Linked DNA regions of Homo sapiens. The protein of the gene in region 3 binds, or shares a complex with, the protein of the main gene of each other region. Each region holds a gene or a part of one and is shown on either strand. Other genes may lie near its edges. The genes, in order: GEMIN4, GEMIN2 and GEMIN5.

Region 1 (8,062 bases), on a different chromosome or scaffold from region 3:
CGCAGGGTGGAGTGCAGTGGGGCACCATCGTGGCTTTCTGCAGCCTTGACCTCTGGGGCTCAAGAGATCCTCCCACCTCAGCCTCCCGAATGGCTGGGCCCACAGCCACGTGCCACCACACCCAGCCAACGTTTTGATCTTTTGTAGCGACCGTCTCACTGCGTTGTTCAGGCTGCAAGCTGTTGTTTCAAACAGATGAAGTTGGAAAGTTCTTCAGCTTCTCCAGAGTTGTTTTTTTGAATCAAGGGGTTGTGGAGCCTACATGTAAATACAAGTGTGCCTTGAGTTAAATCTCCGGGAAGACTTAGAACGGCCGTGTTGCCAGAGCTCTCCTAGTTAGCCTGCAGGACTGTCTGAAGTCCGTGTCCGTCTGACATGTTACCGGAATTAACAAACCTAGGGACGGTGAGTGCTCCTTCATGTGGCTTTCTGGCTCTCTCACCTGCCACTCAGTGCCGCTGTGACTTAGCAGCCAGAGTTTTCAGGAGACCTCCAACGTGTCCGTTGAAATTCAGGGTAAGAGTTGAGAAGTTTCCCTGTTTGTTCTAAGAGTTCTTACCCCAACCTCAGGGGAAATCAATAGTAAATTTACTCTGACTTCAATGATAATAAAGAAGTGCCCTTGCCTCATCCTCTTTATATAAAGCAATAGAGCCACATGGTTCAAAAATGAAAACAATATGAAAAGGTATTGTAAACCGGGTAAGTGTCTGAGACAAGTCTCGCCCATTTAGAGGTTTATTTTGCCAAGGCTGAGGATGTGCCTGAGACACAACCACAGATCTGTGGCCCCCGCACACTTTCCAGAGAGGATTTTTAGGGCCTCAGTATGTGGGATATGACGACGTTTCTCTTCAAATAATCTGATCAATCTTTTATTCTTTAATTCATAGCGCCCCGCCCCCTTTTTCTCCTTTTCCCTTTTTGCCTTTGTGAGATGCCCAGGCACGCCACAGCACCAGGCGTTATCAGTACCAGCTCACATTCCTTTCCTTATTTGGAAAGAGGACTAACTTTCTAGCTCATTACAGACACCCCTTCCCCTTCCTCTCCGCTTTCTTTTACGGGCCCACCCTATCTAAAAAAATCAAATGTTTAGCCAAGCGCGATTAGTTTAGATTGTACGACCTGACCCCGGCCAATGGGGAAAGGGTAGAGGGGCAGGACTTGTGTCAGGAACAAAGGCTCTCGTGCCCCTTTGTTCAGGTGTGCTCTCATGACAACTGGCCAAGGAGGCACCCCTCTGCACAGAAGTAAAATTGCTTTGCTAAGAATCCTTTGTTCGAGTGTTCTATTTCCTTAGGATTTTGAGCATTATTCCTAACAAGTATTTAAAAGGGAAAGAGCAGGAAGGGAGGGAAGAGGGAAAGGAAAAATACAGGAGGGTAGGTAGGGAGATAAGTGGTTACATTCTTATTAGGCTTTGATCAGCGCTCACCAAATCTACATGTCACAGTGAAAGGAGGGGGTAGAGGAACAGTCAGTTTTGCATTCAGCTCAGTAAATCTACATTTAGCACTCACCAAATCTACATGTTACAGTGAAAGGAGCAGGCAGAGGAACAGTCAGTTTTGCATTCAGCTCAGTAAATCTACATTTAGTGCTCACCAAATCTACATGTTACAGTGAAAGGAGCGGGCAGAGGAACAGTTACGCATTCAGCTCAGTAAGTCTACATTTAGCACTCACCAAATCTACATGTTACAGTGAAAGGAGCAGGCAGAGGAACAGTCAGTTTTGCATTCAGCTCAGTAAATCTACATTTAGCGCTCACCAACTCTACATGTTACAGTGAAAGGAGCGGGCAGAGGAACACTCAGTTATGCATTCAGCTCAGTAAATCTACATTTAGTGCTCACCAAATCTACATGTTACAGTGAAAGGAGCGGGCAGACGAACAGTCAGTTATGCATTCAGCTCAGTAAATCTACATTTAGCGCTCACCAAATCTACATGTTACAGTGAAAGGAGCGGGCAGAGGAACAGTTATGCATTCAGCTCAGTAAATCTACATTTACTGCTCACCAAATCTATATGTTACAGTGAAAGCAGCAGGCAGAGGAACAGTTATGCATTCAGCTCAGTACATCTATGTTTTGTCTCGGCTGGTGAGGGATGGTTTCTGGTGTTGTCTTTGTCCCTTACCTATGAAGATAAGCTGTTAATTTATATTGTCAGGTGAGGGAGACCACCTGGGGAGATATGTGGCCTTCTGTCTTGTAGCTTATCTGTTTAGGAACAAAAGGAAGTTTTTTGCATATTCCATGACTCAATTTCCAAGCTTAACTTTTCCTTTTCGCTTAGTGAATTTGGTCCCAAGATTTTATTTTCCTTTCACAGTATACCCCATGCCCATCAATCCCATTCCCCCTGCATCCTATAGGTAACCTCTTCTTAAGCAAATACAAATAGATAAATCCTTATTTTCTGTTTTTTTTTTTAAAACTTTATTTTACTGTTACTTTCTGCTGTCCTAATTATGGCACATTTTTACTTTCTAGGTTCTGTGATTTACAGAGTGGTCTGGCTATGTGGACAGCTTCTAAATTGTCACCACATTTTGGAGCAAGATGTATTATTTTTACAATTAATTTACATTTAACATGAATCATGATCCTAAGTGCATCAGAATGTCTTCATAACATTCGCCAAAGAAGAGAGGGCAGCACTGCTGTTCTACAGTGTGGCTCTCACCTGGTCCACAGTTACCAGAAATAGTTCTTTCGTTGCTGTGATGTCCTGGGTGGGCTTCATTCTTTAGTAATGTACTTTGTCTACAGCAACTTCCTGCAACTATGTGAACAGATCTTGAAGACACACAGTGAGGTTTGGTTTCCTTTGTCCTCTTAAGTCTTTATGGTTGTTGCTTCTATTGTTTATTGGTCCCAGTGAGAACTGCAGCTGACCTGATGTCATGATCTGTGAAGATAGTTTCTATTAAAGAAGAAGTACCAGGAAATCCCATATGCCACCGTAGACCTGCCTTTCTGGATACCATTTACTACTCCATACTCCAGCCGCCATGCACAATGGTTGTGTATGAGGCTCCTGTGATCATTAACAGGAGTAGAAGCTGGGCTCAGACACTCTGGCACTTGCATAGGTCAAGGGGTGTGTTGTGCTCTTGCAACAAATCCCACATAGACATCCATATGCATATTGTCCCACCGTCCCCTAAGCAGAAACCAGGGTTAAGTACAGAATAGTCCCGGGAACATTTTGGTTGCCCGGCCTTAGGTGAGCCTTTCTGGGGCTGGGATTTTGACACCATCTGCTCCATTGTTTCTAAACTGCTGTGTTCTGGCGCATCAATTGTTTCATCACATTATCATCACGGAAAGCTTGGTCTCCCTCAAAACATGAACCGGGTAGGCCCTGTGTTCCAGTGGGGGCTTTTGGACTTGACTTTAGTGTTTAGGAGGACAGAGTCCCTCTCCCCTCTGTGGTGCTGGGGTATTAGTAAATCAGCCTTGAAGAGATAAGGGGCTGGGGCCTCAACCTCCCAAGAGGCTGTCACTGGAGAATGGTCTCCTGCCCTCAGATCTTGGGCATTTCCACAGCACACTGTCCCCCTCGTCCTTCCAAATACCTACATACGCTCTTGTAATAGGAGAGCTGGGAACTCCACCCAAAACCATACAAAAAGTTAGTCTGTGTATTTGGACGCCTCCCCAGCACTCAGTCACCGAGTTTCTCCTTTCCAACAGCAGTCACTCTCATGCAGTTTAAGTGATTTATTGATGTCTCGGCTAAGCTTGCGACAGTTTCAGGACATTTCAGCCATCAAGGTCTAAGAAGCCCTTTCCATTCCCGAGGAGCCCTCAGCCAGCCTCCTTCTTCCTCATCTCCTCACTCTGGCCGCGTAGCCCCTCATGGCGTCCATCTTGGACGCCCCTTTGTTCGCGCTCCACGCCCCCCACTTCCTTCTTCGTCAGCTCCTCCACTTTGGCCGCGTAGCCCCTCATGGCGTCCATCTTGGACGCCCCTTTGTTCGCGCTCCACGCCCCCCACTTCCTTCTTCGTCAGCTCCTCCACTTTGGCCGCGTAGCCCCTCATGGCGTCCATCTTGGACGCCCCTTTGTTCGCGCTCCACGCCCCCCACTTCCTTCTTCGTCAGCTCCTCCACTTTGGCCGCGTAGCCCCTCATGGCGTCCATCTTGCACGCCCCTTTGTTCGCGCTCCACGCCCCCCACTTCCTTCTTCGTCAGCTCCTCCACTTTGGCCGCGTAGCCCCTCATGGCGTCCATCTTGGACGCCCCTTTTTTCGCGCTCCAAGCCTCCCACTTGGCCCTGGCTCTCACGTCTGAGGCCGGAGGGCCGGGGATGTCGCAGTCGCCCTGGGTGGCCTGTTTGTACAAGCCGTAGACCAGCAGCTTCTCCTGATCGCTCACGGGACCCTTCAGCTGCTTGAGGGCCGCGCAGCTCGAACTCCACTTGGCACATGGGGTGGTGGAGGCGGTCCCTGGTGCTAGAAGCTGGAGGTGGAGAGTTGGAGTGGCTGTTACTACTCGATCTCAGGGGGAGGAGACAGGCACGCGATGTTTGTGTTTTGTCAAGCACAGATTGCAAGCTCGGGGTCCAGCGTAAACCCCACCATGTTTGGGCTCACACGGCGCATTTTCTGGGGAGGACCAGCCGTCAAAAAGCGTCTAGGATCCGGAACGCTGCTGTCTGGAGGGGGCGGCGCGGCAGGAGCGCGTTGAGGGACTGTATGTGGCGCGAGCTGGGCGGGTGGGAGTGGAAGCCTCGCGTGGTGCGGCCGCGCTGGGTGGTGGGCGTCCCGGGGGAGGCGCTCGGTGGGGGTGAACTGTGTGCGGGGCACGCCCGGGGTTACCGGGTGAGGGTGAATGCGGGGCCGGGGAATCATGAGCCCGACCCGCTGGGACCCCGGAAGAGGGGCCGGGCAGGGGACGGTGCGGAGGGGTCTAGTGAGCGACGTCCGGGTACCTGAGGGCTGGTGGGAGGGCTCTGCCGGAAGGCGGCGCTGTGCGCTTGGCGCGCTCGTTCGTGAGGACTGCGCGTGCGCGGCGGAGGCTGTGGGCGGGGCCGGGCGGAGGTTGTGAGCAGGCCTAAGCGCGGCCGCCGTGGCTCCTGCGTCTCCCATCGTGCCGTGCGTCCCGCGCCGCGTTCGAGTTCTCGGAGGGGAGGGGGCGTTAGCCCCGCGCAGCCGCCGGCGTCGCCGCCATGGACCTAGGTGGGTGCCGCGGCTCCCCGGCCCCGGGCTGCGTCCAGCAATGCGCCACCAGAGCGGTGCTGCCCCGTCGCGTCTCCTCCTGTCGCGCACGCTCGCGCGGGCCCGGACCGAAACGTCCCCCGCGTCGGGGCGGGTCTAGGGGTCCCGGGGTGGCCTTGGCGGGGGGTGGTCCGGGTCCCGCCGCGCGTTGGGCCGCGTCTTGCCGCCTCCGGCCCCCTGCGCTTGAAAACACGGAGCAGACGTGAAGTTAGAGCCCTTGGAAGCGCCCGGGGCTCGCGCACGTGCTTTGGGAAACGGGCTCCCTCCGAGCACCCCTGGGCGCCCCGACGGCCTCATTTCCTGAACGGCAGCTGCGTTCTTGAGCAAGTGTCTTAACGCTCCAAGTGTCTTACGCTCATGACGTTTCCTCATCGACAGAGCGGGGAGAATGGAAGTGTGTCTCCCCACTGAGTTTTGGGCGACTTTGCATTGAGATCGCCGAGGTACAGTGTCCCTTGTGGGGTTGCGCGGGTCACACCCGCGGTGGGGGCGGCTGCGCTCCTGAGGTATCACTTTGTGAACCTGCGTGCGTCCGGATTCAGAATCTTACAGGCAAGGTCTGGGAGGGAGCCCATAGGAACTAGATGCTCCCTGCTAAATCTTGGCACACGCTGCTAAGACCAGGAGGCTGTTCTGGGAGAGCTGGGGGTGAGGCACCCCGAGATGTGTCAGCAGTAGTAGGCTGGGGGGAAATGGTCTGGTCCCCGCCCCCAGACAGCTTTTCAGGAGCGGAATGGCAGAGCTCTAAGGGCTTGGAGCCCCTCAGCCGTAATTGCTTCCCAGCCCCACCACATTCAGGCTGGGACACCCTCAGCAAATCGTTTCTGCGCCTCAGTGTCCTTATCTCTAGAGCAGGAATACTAGTCCTCAAAAGGTGATTGTGAATAGAAGAGATCTTACCTGTGTACCACCTAGCACAGTGTCTGGCATGGAGTAGGTGCTTAATAAACCTAAGAAGCGGGCTGTGGCAAGCACTAGTTAACCATCCATGATAGAGTACCGGAGTATTTTCCAGCTAGTAACCGCCCTGGGACTTACTACTTCAAACTGTGCGTACTTAATGCGCCTGGAAGGCAGGTGTTTAGGGCCAAACATCTGCTCAACTAAGCCAATAATGCAATAAAATTAAATTTACAGCGTCAGGAGGGACTATATTTTGGGACCCTGGGAGAGCCTCCTGAGCCAGAAAGAAGGGCGGTAACCCCCAGGGAGGTCCCCTTCGCAGCGTAACCCTCCCTGGGAGTCGGTCTCAGCCACTGTGAGATGAGATGGATTGCCTCCACAAGTGGGTTACATAGTGCTGAGCCCTTGGCCTGCTGCCGCTCCCATAAATGGTGGGAGGGGTAAGATGGTCCTTAGTCTCCTGGAGTCAGTGTTTTCTCTGCTGGTGTCTGGCCTGTGAAAATGGGGAATATGAGCTCTTGGGGGCATGACAGACTGAGGAAGGAGTAGCATCTCTCACTCCTGGGAAAGGGGAGATGACTCAGGAATGAGGAATAGGGAGCAGTGTTTGCACCCTCGTTTTAGTTTCTGGGCCAAAGGAAACATACCTGATAAAGACCTACATCCTTTGATGTTTCTGAGCTGGGGGAGGCAAAGAATAGTGACAAGATTCTGGTCTTGCCAACCATGAAAAGGTTTGGGGAAACCAACATTTACTGAGCACCTAATTAGACTCTGTAACTGGATTCTTACTGTAGCTCTATCTCATTTATCCATCATAGCGTCCCGGGGAGATGGGGTCAGGAGATAGCAGTGCCAACCCACTAGCAAGGGCTTGACTGGTATATATCACATGATCCCCAAAGGCATAACATGAAGTCTGTATTATCCCCACATATGCAGAAGGAAGGCTTGGAGAAGCAATCTGACCAAGATCACATCCCTTTTTTTTTTTCGGAGATGGAGGGGGAGTCTCACTGTGTTACCCCAGCTAGTCTTGAACTCCTGGCCTCAGGGATCCACCTGCCTCAGCCCCCCAAGTAGCTGGGATTACAAGTGCTAGCCACTGAACCTGGCCAGAATCACATCATTTTTAAATGGCTGAACTAGGATTTAAACCCATGTCTGATTAAACATCCCAAGATGTTTTCCATGGTAAGTCTGTGTCAATCGTTAGTTCCCTGAAGGAAGGCTTAATCTAGCACAGTATTTTCTGTATCTACTCCCTGGTTTCTCCCACAGAGCTAGGGCCATGAGTACCTTGTTTTTGACTGGAAGGAGCTGTGGGGTGGACCGTTTCCCTGAAAGCTAGAAGAATGTTTGAAGCCTGTTCCCAAGGCAAGTTTATAAAGAGTGAAGGCAGGGCTTGTCTGATTCCTTCTGTGCCCATTGCTCTGTGGCTATGTGATTGCTCTGTGCCCATTACCCTGTGGCTGTGTGACTGCTGCTGTGCCCGTTACCCTGTGGCTGCGTGATTGCTGCTGTGCCCATTACCCTGTGGCTGTGTGATTGCTCTGTGCCCATTATCCTGTGGCCGTGTGATCGCTCTGTGCCCATTACCCTGTAGCCGTGTGATTGCTGCTGTGCCCATTACCTTGTGGCTGTGTGATTGCTGCTGTGCCCATTATCCTGTGGCTGTGTGATTGCTCTGTGCCCATTATCCTGTGGCTGTGTGATTGCTCTGTGCCCATTATCCTGTAGCCGTGTGATTGCTTCTGTGCCCATTACCCTGTGGCTGTGTGATTGCTGCTGTGCCCATTATCCTGTGGCCGTGTGATTGCTGCTGTGCCCATTACCCTGTGGCCGTGTGATTGCTCTGTGCCCATTACCCTGTGGCCGTGTGACTGCTGCTGTGCCCATTACCCTGTGGCCGTGTGATTGCTGCTG
Region 2 (6,941 bases), on a different chromosome or scaffold from region 3:
ATATGTACAATTATTATTGTGCCTGCGTGATAAAGCATGAAATTATGATTATTATGTATCAATAAAATTAAAAATAAGAACTTTGGTATGGGCAAAATGTACTTAAAGACGCTTAACTTTAAATTGTCTACTTCTGTTTTCTTTTTTTTTTTTTTTGAGACGGAGTTTCGCTCCTGTTGCTCAGGCTGGAGTGCAATGGCCATCTCAGCTCACTGCAATCTCCGTCTCCCGGGTTCAAGCAATTCTCCTGCCTCAGCCTCCCGAGTAGCTGGGATTACAGGCATGTGCCACCACACCCGGCTAATTTTGTATTTTTAGTAGAGATGGGGTTTCTCCATGTTGGTCGGGCTGGTCTTGAACTCCCCACCTCAGGTGATCCGCCTGACTTGGCCTCCCAAAGTGCTGGGATTACAGGTGTGAGCCACTAAGCCCAGCCATACTTCTGTTTTCTAAAAGAGCACATACAGCCTGAGCAACATATCAAGACCCCGTCGCTACAAAAAATACAATTAGCTGGGCACGGTGGCACATGCTTGTCATCTCAGCTACTGGGGAGACTGAGGTGGGAGGATGGCTTGAGCCCAAGAACTCGAGGCTGCAGTGAGCTATGATCGTGGCACTGTACTCTGGCCTGTGCAACAAAGCGAGACCCTGTCTCAATCAATCAATCAATCAATCCATCAAATTAGGTATATTAAGACATTCTGTTCCATTAAATGTCCATCAACTAAAAAACCCTGAAGAGGAATTATAGGAAAAATTACAGTGTCTGAATTAAAATTTCCTGATTACAAGTATCAGAGAAACTACTTTGAGCATGAAAAGGAAATTACTATCAACTATTTAAAATGCCACTCTCCCAGGCGCCTGTAGTCCCAGCTACTCGGGAGGCTGAGGCAGGAGAATGGTGTGAACCCGGGAGGCAGAGGTTGCAGTGAGCCGAGATCGCGCCACTGCACTCCAGCCTGGGCGACAGAGCGAGACTCTGAGACTCCATCTCAAAAAAAAAAAAAAAAGAAAAAGAAATAAAATAAAATGCCACCCTCCTTTGAGCTTAGGTTAAATAGCACCTCCTTAGAGAGACCTTTGCTGGCCAGGCGTGGTGGCTCACATCTGTAATCCCAGCACTTTAGGAGGCAGAGGCAGGCAGATCACTTCAGGTCAGGAGTTTGAGACCAGCCTGGCCAACATGGTAAAACCACGTCTCTACTAAAAATACAAAAATTAGTCAGGTGTGGTGGCACACGCCTGTAATCCTAGCTACTCAGGGGGCTGAGGCAAGAGAAGCTCTTGAACCTGAGAGGCAGAGGTTGTGATGAGCTGAGATTGTGCCACTGCACTCCAGCCTGGGCGAAAAATTGAGACGCAAAAAAAAAAGGGGGAAAAAGAGAGCCCTTCTATGATTCCTCTACAGTAGTTCTGTCATTTATTGATTATTATACATGCTTATTTTCTTCATAGCAATAATCACAATATGTAATTATTTGTTTGCTTGTTTACTCTCTGTCTTCCTCAGGAGGGTATGTAAACTCTACAAGGGTAGGAACCTTTTTTGTCTTACCCTCTGTTGAATTCCCAATGCCCGGCACAACCTAGTTGCTTAATTAAAGATGTGCTGGATAAATAAATAAATGAAAATGTCCAGAGTGTGCAAGTAGCTATAAAAGTGTAAGGCCGGGTATGGTGGCTCACACCTGTAATCCCAGCAGTTTGGGAGGCAGAGGTGGGCGCATCACGAGGTCAGGAGTTCAAGACCAGACTGGACAACATGGTGAAACCCCGTCTCTACTAAAAATACAAAAATTAGCCGGGTGTGGTGGTGGGCGCCTGTAATCCCAGCTACTCGGGAGGCTGAGGCACGGTAATCGCTTGAAACCGGAAGGCAGAGGTTGCAGTGAGCTGAGATCGCACCACTGCACTGCAGCCTGGGCAACAAGAGTGAAACTGTCTCAAAAAAAAAAAAAAAAAAAGTGTAAGACATCTGGGTTTCTATTCTTAAAAAAAGTGAAACTTGGTCAAATTCAGAACATGCAAAGCACACTAAGATTAAACACCAATCCAATAACTGGAAAAAGTTCCTTAAAAAATAAAGGGGCCAGGTGAGGTGGCTCACGCCTGTGATCCCAACGCTTTGGGTGGCAGAGGAGGGAGGATCACTTGAGGCCAGGAGTTCCAGACCAGCTGGCAACAGAGACTCCCTCTCTATAAACAAACAAACAAGCAAAAAATAAAAGATAACATAAGTAACCCATTTAAAGACTCCTTTGAAAGGACTGGATAATGTCCTGAAGTAAGATGGGCAACACTCCACAAAGGCTAGAGTTACAGAAAGCCTCTTTAGAGGCAGTAAATGCCAATTGTCTTTCTGAAGGAAAAAGTACAAGCGAATGTCTAACTTTGCACGGAGTAGTCAAATCTTACGTCATAATTGATGCTGTCAGATACTATAGGAAGAGCGTTAGTCTTTTAATTGGGGGGTTGGGGGTAATCTCCAGACGGTTAATAAAACTCACAGAAATATTCACACTTTGCTTCCTTTTCAACTTCTTTGGGTCAATTTGAGCTACCACAACATCTGGACATTGAGCTGCTTCGATCCTACAAATAAGTAATAAACGCGATAAATTAAATTTCTGTTGTGCTTTGCTCAGGTGTAGTAAAACAAGCGATCCACTTCCACAGTTCATTGTGAAATCAGAAAAAAATTCAGACTTCCAATTGAGGTACTAAACAATGTATTTCTGAAATTATCTGGATTGAAAACAAATCTAAGAGCACACATCTTGATACGTGCAATCACGTTCAACAGAAACTCGCCCACGTTAGGATGTAATCCAGAATCCTGAATAGACCTGAACTCGCAACAGACTGGAACGGGAATAGAGCACCGAGGGCTGTACCCAGGGGCAGGGCAGAAGACCAGCCCACCCGCCCAGGGCCGAATCACTCACTGGACCCGCCTCAGGTATTCCTGAGGCGTCCTCGGGGGTACCGAGGGATCGAAACCTTCCGTCAAGTCGCAAGGCTCTACCGGCAATAGCCGAGGCATCAACTCTTCCACTGCGGACTCCGCTGGTACCCACGCCATGGTTTTCAAACCAGCCAGTTCCGCTCGGCGCATGCGCCCATTCTAGGTCACAGCGCAGGCGTACTAATAGACACCTTAGGCGCGGAGCTGAGCAAGTGGCAGTTTAGGGAGCGTTAACTGCGCATGAACAAATTGCTGCTTGCCTCAAGGTTAAGGCTCCGGTGGTGTAATAAAGGATCTGAGAATTTAATTCCTAGCTGAATTGGTTCGAACGCGTTTCTGGGACTTTTACCCTCTGTTTTGTCTTCTAACGCTGGGTAAAGGCCGAGGGTTAGCAACTTTTATGCATCCCTAGTAGTGAGGGATCCTTAAAAATGTTTTTTGAATTAATGAACAATATTACTGTAATTATCATTCATGGAGCTCTAAATTCTTAAACTCTTCATAAACACATTTTCTCATTTGATTCTTAGAACAGTCTTGTGAAGTGGGTGGTAATATACCGCTCTCTTAGGGCAGGGACTGACCTTCCAAAGAGGAAGAACCAATTCCAACCTAGATTTATGCGATGCCAAATGAATGAAAAATTAATTTTCTACAGAAATTTCTAGTGCTTGACCACTTCAAAGATCACTGTATGTTTATTTGGAATGAATATTACTCCTAGAATAGCCAGCACTTTTTAATTTTTGTTTTAAAGAAAAATCTCTTCGTTTAAATACAAATAGTGAAAAAAATGAAACTAATGCTAACACCCAGAAATTAACAAAAATGTTAGGTCAATCTTGTTAGGTAGATAGTATTATTATCTCCATTTCATAGGTGAGGAAACAAGGCAAGAATGTGCAAGAAACAAGTATAATATCTGATTATTTCTAAACAAATACAATTGAGTGAATACAATTGACTTATTTTCTAACACTGATGTTTATTTTAGAAGGTTAAAAATTTTTATTTATGGCACTGCCTTTAGTTTGCAAGGAATTGATTTCAAACCAGGATGTAAGTCTAAATTGAAGATAAAGTGAGGATAGTCCTTAGCTTATTTAAGTACTTAATGCTTAGGAACTGTAACTAAACAATTGGGACACTTGGAAAGATATCACCTGGCTGCAAACTACAGTTATTTGGTTAACAAATTTTCACTGGTTTTGGGAAAAACAGACTTAGAATAGGGAGAAATACTCCTGTCGTCCAACATTTTGGTGATAATCAAGGACAAATTTGAAAAAGTAAGTAGTGACGTGAGGACTAAACTGAATTTTTTTTTTTTTTTTTTTGAGACGGAGTCTCGCTCTGTCGCCCAGTCTGGAGTGCAGTGGCGCAATCTCGGCTCACTGCAAGCTCCGCCTCCCGGGTTCACGCCATTCTCCTGCCTCAGGCTCCCGAGTAGCCGCCGGGACTACAGGCACTCGCCACCACGCCCGGCTAATTTATTGTATTTTTAGTAGAGACGGGGTTTCACCTTGTTAGCCAGGATGATGTCGATCTCCTGACCTCGTGATCCACCCGCCTCGGCCTCCCAAAGTGCTGGGATTACAGGCATGAGCCACCGCGCCCGGCCTGATTTTTTTATTTTGCCCAAATTCCTATCTAAGGGGTCTGGGGAGTCATGCCCTACAAATCATAAATTCTCATCAGATGGGTTTTATTTAACCCTATATATCACGATTTACTTTTCAACCTCACTTCGAAATGACATTACGAGACAAAGAAGAAAATAAAAATATTTGACCCCAAAACATGTTTCTTTGCCGTATTTTGAAATGGCCCTGCAAAGCTGTTCTTTGTGGAGGAAATTTTGCATCCGTAAAGAATCTTGGCCAGGCGCAGTGGCTCATGCCTGTAATCCCACCACTTTGGGAGGCCGAGCTGGGCACATCACTTGAGGTCAGGAGTTCGAGACCAGCCTGGCCAACATGGTGAAACCCCGTCTTTGGTAAAAATACAAAATACTACCTGGGCATGGTGGTGGGCGCCTGTAATCCCAGCTACTTGGGAGCCTGAGGCAGGAGAATCGCTTGAATCCAGGAGGCGGAGGTGGCAGGGAGCCCAGATTGTGCCATTGCACTCCAGCCTGGGCAACAAGAGCAAAACTCCATCTCAAAAAAATAAAATAAAATAAAATAAAATAAAATATTACCCAGCCTTGACCTCCCGGGCTCAAGTGATCCACTCACCTTGGCCTACCAAAGTGCTGGGATTACAGGTGTGAGCCACTGGGCCAGGCCACAAATACATTTTTTTTAATTTTTATTTTTTACTGTAAATTATTAGCATTTTCTTTCAATTTTTTTCTGGAGAAAAGGTTACCTTGCCAATCAACTACCAATGGAACAATGGCTAACATTGGAGTTTGTGCATAAGTATGTGTCAGAACTATGCATGGATTAAGGAAGAAAGGAGACAATAGGAGAATGGAACAAAGGTTGTCCTGGGAAATAATAATAAATTATTTTCCAAAAGAAGAGGTAATAATATAGCTTCGTGCTACTTCAAATCTAATTTTATTTAAAAGAATTAGTAATGATTTTTTGAGTGAAGTTTTCAGAAATTGCACTAAGTATTTTTTAATGCTTCAGTGAAATATGGAACACATGAGATAAGTTATATTTGGTTGATGAAGTTATTCTGAAAAAACGCTATTTGGAAAGGTGAACTTCTGAAACTACAATAACATTTCATCTATTCCCAGGAAGAAATATTCCTAAGGTACTGAACTACTTCTGGTGCCCTGTTTTTAGAGATTTATCGCCGGTTTTTAGTTTATGATGGAAAAATTCTTGTTTCAGTATTTCTCACACGATTGGTTAGCTGTAGGAGTTACATGACGATTGTGAGAACAGAACATTCTGTTGTGTGTTTATTGATGATGTGGCTGTTTATTGATGATGGAGGCATCTGTTAAGTCAACCTTACACAGCCAACTACAGTTTATCTCTGTCTCTGTGTTTTCTTTTCTTTTATTATTTTCCTTTTTTTTTTTTTTTTTTTGAGACGGAGTCTCGCTCTGTCACCCAGGCTGGAGTGCAGTGGTACTGCTCACTGCCACCTGTGCCTCCCGGGTTCAAGTGATTCTCCTGCCTCAGCCTCCTGAGGAGCTGGGATTATAGGCACCCACCACCATGCCCGGCTAATTTTTTTATTTTTAGTAGAGACGGGTTTTGTCATGTTGGCCAGGCTGGTCTTAAACTCCTGACCTCAGATGATCTAGCTGCTTCAGCCTCCCATGTCTCTGTGTTTTCTATCCCTTTAAGTGGCTCAGTTATTCTCAAATGTTAGTGTGTATAAGAGTCATCCGGCTGGACGTGGTGGCTCACACCTGTAATCCCAGCACTTTGGGAGGCCAAGGCAGGTGGATCACTTGAAATCAGGAGTTTGAGATCAGCGTGGCCATCATGGTGAGACCCCTGTCTCTACTAAAAATACAAAAAATTAGCTGGGCATGGTGGCGTGCACCTGTAATCCCAGCTACTTGGGAGGCTGAGGTGGGAGAATTGCTTGAACCCAGGAGGCAGAGGTTGCAGTGAGCCGAGATAGCACCACTGTACTCCAGCCTGGGCGATGGAGTGAGACTCAGTCTCCAAAAAAAAAAAAAAACTGGAAGAAATTATTTAAAATATGGAATCCTGTATTTTACAGCTATTTCTTCCAGAGCTTCTGTTTCTGTTGATGGGGTGTGGGGCTAAGAAACTGACATTTTAAAAGGCATTCTAGGTGGGATTTTTTTTTTTTGAGACAGAATCTTGCTCTGTCGCCCTGTTGCCCAGGCTGCAGTGTAGTTGCGATCTTTGCTCACAGCAACCTCCGCCTCTCCTGTGTTTGAGCGAGTCTTGTGCCTCAGCCTTCTGAGGCCACCACACCTGGCTAATTTTTGTATTTTTAGGAGACACAGGGTTTCGCCACATTCCAG
Region 3 (6,408 bases):
GTCCTACCAACTAGGCTAGGTTTTCTACCTAGCCATGCCTATTTATGTCTTTGCAATCAAGAAAGATTCTCCATCCCTGGTAACAAAGCATCGTCTTCCTAAAGTTCACTTCACTGTATGAAGAACTGTGAGGATCTAAATTCTACAGTATTTCCCTTTGTGAGTTTATTAAACTCTAATGCTAGGCACATACACGTCTTTGAAAACTGCCTCAAACTTTCTCCTTCCTGGGACTTCCTGTAAATGAATTTCATTCTCACTGTCCCAACAGCTCCAATCCTAGGAATTAATTGAAAAATAAACTACAAACGTGAGCAGAAAAGCCTTCACAATGAATCCTAGAGAAAACAGTTCAATTATCTGAAAGGAGTGTTCCTTCCTACACCCATGCCAGACTCTGATTTTCCCATGCTAGCAACTGTGACATTACAGAAACATCTGTTCCTGACACTGTTCAACTGTTTAAATAACCAAGGAGGAGAAAAAAAAGATTTATAATTAAATAGTATTTAGGGTCCCAATAGTCAGAGTCCAATAATCCAAAGGTCATCTATGCAAAATTAGGAATATGCATTTTTCTCCAAAGAGTATCTTTGGCTTTAATCTGATTCTCAAAAGGATCCTATGATCCAAGAAAGTTTAAGAACCATTGAAACAGTAATTTATTCCTGAGCTATTTGACTGCCATCAATCCATTTGTTATAAAACTGAAGGGAAAACACACATTTGAATCACTTCTTCTAAAGCTTTAGTAAGTGATCTGTTCAAATAAGCAATTACATGAAAGAATAAAACCAAATTTCCAACCTAAAATTCTGACAGGAGAGTCAACATGATGGTTAAGGCCTATTTCATATTCAAACTTCAGTCTATGAAAGAGTAGAGAGAGAAGGGTCTCCTCTTTCAAATTAAATATTATAAAAACAATTAAAAAAAGGTATCAATAGTCCTAAAATGCAGCAACTCCATCTCAAACAAGCATGACACACTTCTGATCAGATGAAGTATTTACAAAGGTAGCTTGTGTTTTAAGCATGTAACACTTTGGGTGACGACAGAAGTTTCTCCTCTTTGGGTGAAACCTGCCTAAGGCTGTAGAGATGACCAACACTCTGCAGGTGTTAGTTCTGAATAACTACTGTGGGCTTTTCATGATCTTCCCTCCAGTAGGAGACCACAATTGAGTCTAAAGTCAGATCCACCGTTGTCTATGGGTAGGCAGGGTTGATTCAAACTTAATCCTTGTTTGTATTCTTTTGGATTACTGCAAAAACATCTAGGGACCAGAGTGAATGTCTGGTGAGGCATAACTGCAGAGGTGAAAGATGTCAAACATTTTCAATTTGGCAGTTTCTTCAAGGTGTGTGAAAATTCACATACAGAAGGTCTGGCAGTGTCTTCTGTAAGTTTTCGTGTTGCCGTATTTCTGAAGGAGCTCTTGGGCCTGCTGCTGCATTTCCTGGGCCAGACAGCCAGGAAAGTGGGACCTGATGAGAAGCAGGACGAGGCAGCACTCCAGCACATCTGGGAAGGGCCAGGCCTGAAAGACGATGACATGAGGATGAATAAGGAAGCATTTGCAGAAGAGCCACAAACACCTGCACAGAAGGCACCAGTCACTCAGGTTCATCTATAGACACTTCTTGGACACAGCTGAGCCAGCTGTCTCCTAAGGCAATGTCCTGTCTTTCTCTTCAACAGTTACTCCAAGGAGAAATGACACTCAAAACTAGGATGGCTACTGCGATGTCCTTCTCAATGGCACAATCTCTTTCTACAGCCCTATGCAAATCCACCCTTAAAAATGGTGCTTCTATTAATATTTGGGCCCACAGCCAAAAAGACCTGTCCATCTGTAAGCTATCTAATACATGGCACCAATTTAAATTTTACTTCTTACCTATTAAATCTATTTGGTTTCTCTGAAGATTGAGGTATAAAATTACTTGTGTGATCGATAATTCTAGTCTCACAAAACATTCTAGCTAACCAAAGTAATTGGATTCTAAATTCTTTTTTTTTGTTTTGTTTTTTTTTTGAGACAGAGTCTCGCTCTGTTGCCCAGGCTGGAGTGCAGTGGCGTGATCTTGGCTCACTGCAAGCTCCGCCTCCTGAGTTCACGCCATTCTCCTGCCTCCATGCTATTCTCCTGCCTCAGCCTCCCGAGTAACTGGGACTACAGGCACCTGCCCCCACGCCCGGCTAATATTTTGTATTTTTAGTAGAGACGGGGTTTCACCATGTTAGCCAGGATGGTCTTGATCTCCTGACCTCATGATCCGCCAGCCTCAGCCTCCCAAAGCGCTGGGATTACAGGCGTGAGCCACCACGCCCAGCCTGGATTCTAAATTCTTAAGCACATATGAATGGGTAGAGATTTTAGAAACTGAACAGAGAGGTAGCTGACCTTTATAAGAATGTGGTATAGTCAAGTGATAACACAAAAAGTGATGCTTTACCAAATGAACTGCTTTAACTCTTACCTTAATGCTCTCAGGAAATTTCGCCATTCTCTGATTTGCCTCGGTAAGCCTTTTGGTTAACTCAGGCAGAGAAAGTGGCTCATTTTTTTCTTCTTTACTAGTGAAAAAAATAAAAGGTGTAAATTGTATGTCTTGCCCTGGGTAACATTTTTCTCCCATTGTTATTTTACTGTGGTAAAATGTATATAACATAAAGCTTACCATCTTAGCCATTTAAAAATACATAGTTCAGTGATTTTAAATAAATTCATAATGTGGTGAAAAACATCCCCACCACCCATTTCCAAAAACTCTTGTCATTTTGTAAAACTGAAATCTTATACCCATTAAACATTAACTTCTCATTCTGCTTCCCTTAGCCCCTGTCAACATTATTCTACTTTCTGTCTCTATAAATTTAACTATTTTGAGTAGTTCATATAAGTGGAGTCATATAGTATATGTCTTTTTGTGACTGGCTTATTTCACTCAGCATGATGTCCTCCCTTCGTAAGGCTGAATGACATTCCATTGTATGGATATGGCACATTTTGCTTATCCATTCATCTGTCAGTGGATACTTAGGTTGCTCCCGTGTTTTGGGTATTATGAATAATGCTGCCATGAACACAGGTGTGCACATATTTCAGACCCTGCTTTCAATTCTTTTGGGTGTATACCCAGATGTGGAAGTGCTGGATCCTATGGTCATTCTATTTTACATTTCTGGAGGAAGTGCTGCTGTACTGTTTTCCACAGTGGCTGCATCATTTTACATTCCCACCAATAGGCACAAGGGTTCCAATGTCTCTGCATCCTCCTCAACACTTGTTCTGTTTCTCTGATAGTAGCCTAATGGCTATGAAGTGCTGCTTCACTGTAGTTTTGATTTGCATTTCCCCAATGATGAGATGTTGAGCATCATTTCCTGTGCTTACTGGCTTTTTAGAGAAATGTCTATTCAAGTCCTTTGCCCATCCTTGAATTGGATTATCTTTTGTTATGCCTGGGTAGCTTTTACCTTTTATTTTTAATATTTTTTAAAAATTTAAACTTTTGCCTATGACACAGCCCTCAGGAGGCCCTGAGAGCATATGCCCCTGCCTGGGTTACTTTTATCTCATTTTATAAATAAAATTCCTTTGTCACCTGGCTTCTTAAAATTTAATTTTTTTTTTTTTTTTTTGTAGAGACAGGGTCTGTCAACCAGGCTGGTATGAGTGGCATGATCGTATCTCACTACAGCCTCGAACTCCTGGGCTTAAGTGATCCTCCCACCTCAGCCTCCTGAGTAGCTGGGACTACAAGTGCATGCCACCACTACTGGCTAATTTAAAAAAATTAATTTTTCTAGAGACAGGGTCTCAATATGTAGCCCAGGCTGAACTTGAGCTCCTGGCCTCAAGTGATCCTCCTGCCTCAGCCTCCTAAGTAGCTACAGGGTACATGCCACCACACCTGGTTACTTTATTTGTATTTTTTGAGATGAAGTCTCCCTCTGTTGCCCAGGCTGGAGTGCACTGGTGCGATTTTGACTCACTGCAACCTCTGCTGCCCAGGTTCAAACGATTCTCTGGCCTCAGCCCCCCAAGTAGCTGGAATTACAGGCATGTGCCACCATACCCAGCTAATTTTTAGTAGAGACGGGGTTTCACCATGTTGGCCAGGCTGGTCTCAAACTCCTTACTTCAAGTGATCTGCCCACCTCGGCCTCCCAAAGTGCTGGGATTACAAGCGTGATCCACTGTGCCCGGGCTTTTTTTTTTTTTTTTTTTTTGTAGAGACAGGGTCTCGCTTTTTTGCCCGGGCTGGTGGTGAACTCCTGGGCCAAGTGATCCTCCTGCTTCAGCCTCCCAAAGTGCTGGGATTATAGGCATGAACCACTGTTCCTAGCCAGCAGGGTCATTTTTCATTCCGTCTTGTACTTGCCTCAGTACTTACCACTGGCTCTGAGAACTGCAGAGGGGCTGCTCTGCTTCTACTTCCGGTTCATTCTTATCAGGACCATTTGCTGTGGATTTACAGAGTTGACTCTTTTGGTGTTGTCGGATCATTTCTGCCAAGGTCTCTTGGACTTCAGCAACAGTTCTCTGTGAGTTTTGGAGACTGGCATGCTTTTCTGAAAAGAGCTCCTTAAAAGTACTCAGCATTCGCTCACCTTCTTCTGTGAGTCTCAAGTCTAGTTCTGAAGGCCTGTTTGGCTCTGGCTGAGAAGTTTCAGGGTCCGTTTCTTCAGTGCTGGCAGTGTCTAACTGCTGGCTTGGCTCAACAGAGAGTGTTCTGTGACCAGCCCTTACCCAGACACTGGAATTTGGGCAAGGTCTGGAGAGAGACCACCAGAATTCATACAGACGCCCATAAAGAAAAAAGGCCTCCAAACTTTTGAAAGCTGGTGTGGCAGGGGATTGATGGTCCCCCAACTTGTCTCTTAGGTGGTCACAGCCTAGGAAAAGAGGAAAAAGATACTGGGTCATGCATTTCTCTAGTTGCCAGAAATGTGGCTTCCTGCCCTTATGTTCTATTTCTTATCAACCAAGAAGCAGACCCCAGGAAAAAGGACAACAGTGTGATCCACCGGGCCACATGCCTTTCCACCAAGAGCCAACTGGAGGCTAAACATTTCCTGGCTTGCGACAGTGTTCTCATTACTACATCCTAGGAGTCATTCAAAGCATGATAGAGTATTCCATTTGTACTACTGAAGGCTCTGGGGCCACGACAACAGATCACACTGTCTCTCTGAAAAATCACAATGATTTAGTTCAGTGACTGACTATGCAGCCCAAGGAATGTCTATCTTTTTTGCTGTTCTTTTCTGTTCTTACTAACATGTAACTACATTCCTATTTCTCTCTCCCTTAAACTTTGTGGAAAGTGGACAGGAGGCTGTAAGAGGGTAGGGCCAGGTAAAGGAAACAGTATAGTTGTTCTTAAAAGCTTCGGTAAGAGAATCCAAACTTTCTACTAAAATGACACAGCTGGCCAATCTCCATCTTTTAAGAATCTAGGTACTCCCAGTGCCACACCACTAATGGTGGTGATGTTGTCCATTAAAGGGTGTGCCTCAGGCAGCAGGAAGTCACTTACCGTCAGGGAGAAAGGCTGAGTACACTTCCTGCATGATGGTGAAGCTCCCTGAGTCATAGCTCCGGACCACCGCCCGAAGGAGCGCCTGCACAGCCTCGTCCCAGGAGGCCATCTGTTGGCTCAGCACTGCCAGGGTCAAGTCATGGCAAATGTGAAGCAGGAGCTGGAGAGAGAAGCCAGAGTCTGAGTTAAACATCCTCCCACGGTAGGCGCAGAGGATGCCACCAAACTGTTCCTGTGAACCGCATTTGGAAACAAGTACACACAATTCACACTTTGAAAGTTCCTCTTGTCTCCGCCACCCATTTTTGCTTCCCACATCGGAAACTCTCATGTCTAGTTGCACAGCAGCACACACACGTCCCGGTGTTAAAGTCTGTTCACACTGAGAAAACACCTTTACATTTGCATTTAATTAAAACAAAAAGTGGGCCAGGCGCGGTGGCTCATGCCTGTAATCCCAGCACTTTGGGAGGCCAAGGTGGGCAGATCACAAGGTCAGGAGTTCAAGACCAGCCTGGCCAACATGGTGAAACCCCGCCTCTACTAAAAACACAAAAATTAGCCAGGCATGATGGCGCGTGCCTGTAGTCCCAGCTACTCGGGAGGCTGAGACAGAAGAATTGCTTGAACCCGGAAGGTGGAGGTTGTGGTGAGCTGAGATTGCGCCACTGCACTCCAGTCTGAGCATGAGAGTGAGACTCCCTCTCAAAACAAACAAACAAACAACAAAAACAAAAAGTGAGTTTCTGGAACTAAAAGCTGTAATTAAAAACAAAATAAAGGCTGGGTGCAGTTGCTCACACCTATAACCCCATCACTTTGGGAGGCTGAGGCGGGCGGATCACCCGAGGTGAAA

Evidence for each region.
Region 1: GEMIN5 (region 3) and GEMIN4 share a complex: the UniProt entries of both Homo sapiens proteins name them as parts of the SMN-Sm complex.
Region 2: GEMIN5 (region 3) and GEMIN2 share a complex: the UniProt entries of both Homo sapiens proteins name them as parts of the SMN-Sm complex.

The regions. Positions count from the first base shown.
Region 1 is NC_000017.11:749,265-757,326, reverse strand, and holds the start of GEMIN4 (gem-associated protein 4), read left to right. Parts: upstream 1-5,062; 5' UTR 5,063-5,184; coding exon 5,185-5,194; exon of another isoform or gene 5,195-5,676; intron 5,677-7,078; exon of another isoform or gene 7,079-7,330; intron 7,331-7,417; exon of another isoform or gene 7,418-7,491; coding exon of another isoform or gene 7,492-7,513; intron 7,514-8,062. UniProt on the Homo sapiens protein: The SMN complex catalyzes the assembly of small nuclear ribonucleoproteins (snRNPs), the building blocks of the spliceosome, and thereby plays an important role in the splicing of cellular pre-mRNAs.
Region 2 is NC_000014.9:39,110,486-39,117,426, reverse strand, and holds the start of GEMIN2 (gem-associated protein 2), read right to left. Parts: upstream 3,105-6,941; 5' UTR 3,089-3,104; coding exon 2,952-3,088; exon of another isoform or gene 2,599-2,951; coding exon 2,514-2,598; intron 1,739-2,513; exon of another isoform or gene 1,562-1,738; intron 1-1,561. UniProt on the Homo sapiens protein: The SMN complex catalyzes the assembly of small nuclear ribonucleoproteins (snRNPs), the building blocks of the spliceosome, and thereby plays an important role in the splicing of cellular pre-mRNAs.
Region 3 is NC_000005.10:154,886,838-154,893,245, forward strand, and holds the end of GEMIN5 (gem-associated protein 5), read right to left. Parts: intron 5,713-6,408; coding exon 5,550-5,712; intron 4,906-5,549; coding exon 4,404-4,905; intron 2,581-4,403; coding exon 2,484-2,580; intron 1,541-2,483; coding exon 1,373-1,540; 3' UTR 574-1,372; downstream 1-573. UniProt on the Homo sapiens protein: The SMN complex catalyzes the assembly of small nuclear ribonucleoproteins (snRNPs), the building blocks of the spliceosome, and thereby plays an important role in the splicing of cellular pre-mRNAs.